Regions from separate parts of the Homo sapiens genome. Here region 2 is linked to region 1. The links come from fine-mapping of genetic effects on gene expression. A gene starts in region 1. The other region holds a variant in brackets. All regions are shown on one strand. Distances are between the middles of the regions.

Region 1 (2,500 bases):
TGATCAGAACCCAGGAGACCTGAGCTCGGATCCCGATGCCTCTTACTAGTCACAACAGCAGTGCCTTTGGGAGATACATGACATATGCCTGGGCCCAGCTTCCCAATGTGGAAAGGGGGTTAATTACACTAACTACCCCGAGTTGCTGAGGATGGAGTCACGCAGGGAGCTGGGCCTGGTGTGTTGCTGGCGCCCATTGACTCTTTTTTTTTTTTTCCCCACCCCCACCTACCCCGAGAGGGAGTCTCGCTCTGTCTCCCAGGCTGGAGTGCGGTGTCCGGATCTCGGCTCACTGCAACCTCTGCCTCTTGGATTCAAGCGATTCTCAAGCCTCAGCTTCCCGAGTAGATGGGATTACAGGCGCCCGCCACCACGCCCAGCTATGTTTTTTTTTTTTTTGTATTTTTAGTAGAGGCGGAGTTTCACCATGTTGGCCAGGCTGATTTCGAACTCCTGACCTCAGGTGATCCGCCCGCCTCGGTCTCCCAAAGTGCTGGGATTACAGGCGTGAGCCACCGCGCCGGGCCTCACGTTAGCTTTATTTGGCGGAATGCACCCCCCAAGTGGAATCTACCAATGAACCAGTCCTGGGAGGGAGCTGGCGCCCACCCGGCCCGACGGGACCCCGCTCCTCACCCGCCTCCCGCCACTGGTTACCATGACAACCGGGGACTCGTCTCCTGGCAGTCCCGTCAGCTTCCGGTAGAAGAGCTCGGCCACATCCCGGCCGCCACTGTCCCCGCGGACTGGCGGGTGGAAGGACTCAGTGAAGGATCCTGCGACACAGGCTGGCCCTGGGCGCCCCTCCCGCCCGGCCCCTCCGCCCCTTCCCAGCCCCAAGGGTCTAGGATACAGTCTTTGTAGATGAGCGGGTCCCCCTTGGAGGACAGAATGAAGAATTGGGAAATCATGGCCGTTCTGGAGAGTAGACAAGAAGACGGCGAAAGTCGGGCCTGCCCCGCCCTGCGGCCCCGGAACAAAAGAACGCGTGTGCGCTGGCCCTTTAAGAGCGATTCTCCTCCGCCCGCGCCAGCTCGGACCGCGGGAAACCCGGCGCCTGCACTACCCCGCCCGGAGATTCCCTTCCGACGCCCGCACCGCCTCCCCGTCACTCATTCTAGGCCCGCACGGTGATTGGCTTGCGGCTAGCGGGAGGTGAAGAAGGCCGCCTTGTCCGATTGGCCCGCACGCAGTGGCGCCGGTCACGTGGGGGGCGACGTTTCGCGCCAATTTCGGTTGGCCGGCCACAGTCCACCGCGCGGAGATTCTCAGCTTCCCCAGGAGCAAGACCTCTGAGCCCGCCAAGCGCGGCCGCACGGCCCTCGGCAGCGATGGCACTGAAGGACTACGCGCTAGAGAAGGGTACGGGTCTACGAGCCCGGGAGGGCGTCCTGCGCGGGGAGCCTCCCGGGGAACACCTGTTGGTGTGAGCTGGGGTCTTGGGGGACCGGGGTCGGCGGGTTCTGGGGTGCGCGAGGCCAGAGGCAGGGTCGAGCTGCGGCCTGGCTAAGGCCCACGGGGCCTGGGAAGCGTGCGGGGGGCCATCGATGTTGAAGAAAAGCTAGTAATCCCACCTGGTAAAGGTGTTAGGGTCGTGGGGTTGGGGGCTTGGGGGCGCGCTAACCCGGCTGGGGGCTGCACAGGGAAAAGTCGCGCCCAGGACCTCAGGAGAGTCTTAAGGGCTCTGGGCTCCCGTGCCCGCTTTCCTTCGCGCTTTTGGGCATTCCCAGGTTCCCGCGCCCTCCCCAGGCGCGCGTAGGCCCCGGGGGCGGGCAGGCCGGGGCCGCTGCGCGCCGGGATTGGCCGTTTGAGGCCGCCCTCCGAGCGGAAGTGGAGCCGGGCGGAAGTGGCGCGAGGAGGCTGGAGGGAGTGTCGTGTAAACAGTGTCCTTCCGCGCGGCGGCCGCGGAGAGAGCTGCGGCCCGGGGGGGCGTGCCTGGGATCCGGAGCTTCGCTCGGGCCCGGGAAAGGCGGCAGTGGGCTGGGATCGCGGTGTCTCTGGGTGTGATGGCCAATGGCTGGACTGGCTCCCGCCCTGGGCGGAGGAATCCCGAGCTGTGAAGCGGCTGGAATCCGGGCCCATGTGCTTCTTTGTTTACTAAGAGCGGAAGCGATGGCGGGAGCGGGGGTGGGGTGCGGTGGCGGGGTGCGGTGGCGGAGGTCCCGGTGAAATCAGGGGCTAAGGGGACCCAAAGAAGGCGGGGGATCATAGGGGTGGAAAGAAAGCTGAGAACCTTGAGACCGGAGTGTGAGGGGCCAACGGGGAAGGGCGCTAGAATTTTAAACTAAAGTAGGGACCGGAATTCCCCTGGGGAGATGTTGGATGGCCCTGTGCACTGCCACGGGCTCTTTATTCTTCGCTGGTTAGAAACAGACTTGTGAAAAAGAGTTATGCCCACTTTGGGGAGACTTCGGTAGGTTTATTTAAATGCTCATATTATTAATTAGTTCATAGGTCGTGTTTTAAGCGAAAATGGGTATCTAAGATTTGTCTTAAAGTT
Region 2 (3,013 bases), 63 kb after region 1:
ATTTCTATGAAATGATCTATTTATATCACTGACTTTTCTTTTTCTCTGATTCTATATTTCATTTAACAATCTGCAGACTTTCACCCCATTTCCCAGATGGGAAAACCCTAGCCCCCTCGTATCTCTGAGAAGTTGCTCAGAGTAGGACACAGAGAAATATGGCCCCCACCCTGGGAAGTACTGCTGTCACTGTTTAAGTGTATTTCAGTTCTGTTACTCCAATTCATACACACAGTCTTCCATGAGGATGGTAGGATGAACCTGGTTAGCTGGCTTTGGATAAGCAGATCAGCATGACTACCTGGAATAAAAGTGACTGACTCTAGGATAAAAATTAAAAAAAGATTCTTTCACAGCAACGAGTCTTTGCAAAACCTCTCTCCTAATAATCACAAACCAGGGGAAGAAAAGTGGGAGCAGGGAACACAGGAACACAGCCAAAGGGAATATTGCAAAATGCTTCCCGAGCTTCATCAGACAGACTTCTTGCAATGCCACGACTGGATGCATCTGCACACAATTCCGGGAAATGCCCACCTTGCTGTTCTCCTATCCCCAATTTTCTTTCTTTCTTTCTTTTTTTTTTTTCTTTTTTTGAGACAGAGTCTCTGTTACCCAGGCTGGAGTGCAGTGGTGCAATCTCGGCTCACTGCAACCTCTGCCTCCCAGATTTAGGTGATTCTCCTGCCTCAGCCTCCTGAGTAGCTGGGACTACAGGCGCCCACCACCACGCCCGGCTAATTTTTGTATTTTTAGTAGAGACAGGCTTTCACCACGTTGGCCAGGCTGGTCTCAAACTCCTGACCTCAAGTGATCCGCCCACCTCTGCCTCCCAAAGTGCTGAGATTACAGGAGTGAGCCACCGTGCCTGGCCAGTCCTATCCTCCCCCCAACCTTTTTTTTTTTTTTGACATGGAGTCTCACGCCATCACCCAGGCTGGAGTGCAGTGGCGCCATCTTGGCTCACTGCAACCTCCGCCTCCCATGTTCAAGTGATCCTCCTGCCTCAGCCTCCTGAGTAGCTGGGACTACAGGCGCCCGCCACCACGCCCAGCTATTTTTTTGTATTTTTAGTAGAGACGGGGTTTCGCCATGTTAGCCAGGATGGTCTCGATCTCCTGACCTTGTGATCCACCCGCCTTGGTCTCCCAAAGTGCTGGGATTACAGGCCTGAGCCACTGTGCCCAGCCTTATCCTCAATTTTCTAAGCATAAGGATTTAAGAGTTAGTGGGAAAGCATGACTACGGTTTAAAAGAACCTGGTCAGCTGAAGCAGTCCCACTTGGCCATTCCAGTACACTTCCTACTCTCGCTTCATGGAGAAGACCGTCTACTGACAAGAGAATCCATCCCCTTTGCACACAGTGGTCACCTGACAGCTCAGAGGTCAACTTCTTGGTTTTGAGGAAAAATTCAAAAGGCTGCACGTTTAAAGGAGTTGTTCCATTTCAGTGCCCCATTAGCCTGTCTTTCCTCAGAAATTTACCAATCTCTTGATGTGATAAGCACCAAACTATGAAGCTTTTCCCTTCCTCTCCCCGCTGCTCCGTTCTGTGAAC[C/T]GACTTTTTGTCTACAATCACACTGATTTCTTCACTGTTTGCTCTGAAACTTCACTTTTTCTGAGTGATGTGTTCTGTCAAATAGGCTAAAATAAAATACAGTATCTGCTTACAGGTAATATACGGAACAATAACAAGGGACTGAAGGTACAAAACACACACGGACATTATGGTCATATAAAATATATAGAAGTACCTAACGTTAACAATTTTTGTAAGAAGTTGCACATTTTGCTATTTTTTTAAAGCATTTCCCCACATTTTTTTTCATCTGTAGATCCTCTGCAGTTAAGATTGAGCACCCCCCCGCAACTTTTTTTTTTGATACAGAGCCTCGCTCTGTCACTCAAGGCTGGAGTGCCAGTGGCATGATCTTAGCTCACTGCAACCTCCGCCTCGCAGGTTCAAGCCATTCTCCTGCCTCAGCCTCCCGAGTAGCTGGGACTACAGGCGTGCGCCACTGTGCCCAGCTAATTTTTTTTTGTATTTTTAGTAGAGACAAGGTTTCACCATGTTGGCCAGGCTGGTCTCGAACTACTGACCTCGTGATCCGCCTGCCTCGGCCTCCCAAAGTGCTGCGATTACAGGCGTGAGCCACGGCGCCCGGCCAAGATTGAGCTCCCTCTTGCAATGTTTCTCAAATTCATCACGATTGGAACATACCGACGGAATTCATTTTCTGTCTGAAGCAATGAGTGCTATACATGAAAGTTTTCCTCACATATAATATTCATCAAGTTTATTTACAGTATAAGCTTTCCGATGCTAAGGGCTGAGATGTGATTAAAGGCTTTGCCGTATTCATCACATTCAGGAGGCTCCTTTCTGGAATAAATTCTCTGATGTCTATGTGAACTGTCCCACGTATCACACGTCAACCTCTCTATACATATTTAGCAGTTTCACTTTTATGCCTTTAATATTAAGTGCTTTACATATCAAGATGTCTCATAGATCGATAATCTCAGGTTTTAGCCTTGCCTGCCAGGCTGGAGTAGAAACAAATACCCCACAACCTGAGGATTTTACTTCTCTTCCTGGCAAGGGTAGGGTATATATTGAAAAACTCTTCAAAAATTTCCATTAGGACAACTAGCATGCTAATGGTTAACTGTAGAATGTTTCAACTGTTAACAGACTTCAGCGGGCCAAGAACTTTTGAATGACTATCTTGAACGCCAATTAGATGTTGCAAGCGTTTTTGACCATGACCCAATTACACTTTGCACTGAGCATCTGATAAACGAATGCACTGCAAGTGGTTTTAATAAACAGTTGTAGCCTGTTTTCCTCAGAAAACACATCTTCAAATAGCTGCTTCAAGGACAGCATGTGGCTGAAGATCGAAGCAACCCTAGTGGCAGCTATCCAACAAAGTCAGGAAGATGTCTCCATGAAACGGAATTAAATGTGAGGGCACAGGTCACATTTAACCTTCATTTAAAAACAAAACT

What was found. PIP is the estimated chance that this variant, and not a neighbour inherited with it, causes the effect. A credible set is the group of variants that fine-mapping cannot tell apart.
Region 2: its variant is the best candidate, but not a certain one, in a credible set for the expression of AP4M1 in whole blood (TOPMed, PIP 0.61).

What each region holds. Positions count from the first base shown.
Region 1 is chr7:100,100,126-100,102,625 of GRCh38, reverse strand. AP4M1 (adaptor related protein complex 4 subunit mu 1) reads right to left here and starts at 983. Exons shown (of 15, transcript NM_004722.4): 1 at 854-983; 2 at 658-746. The coding sequence starts at 911. MCM7 (minichromosome maintenance complex component 7) reads left to right here and starts at 1,229. Exons shown (of 15, transcript NM_005916.5): 1 at 1,229-1,362. The coding sequence starts at 1,332. RefSeq lists enhancers at 905-954, 977-1,529, 1,875-2,034 and a silencer at 1,665-1,764.
Region 2 is chr7:100,036,891-100,039,903 of GRCh38, reverse strand. It overlaps ZKSCAN1 (zinc finger with KRAB and SCAN domains 1), which reads right to left. Exons shown (of 6, transcript NM_003439.4): 6 at 1-3,013. Among named protein-coding and RNA genes, the nearest start is that of ZSCAN21, 11 kb to the left of the region's middle. RefSeq lists enhancers at 1,573-2,072, 2,073-2,574. The variant C/T (reference allele first, on the strand shown) is at 1,560.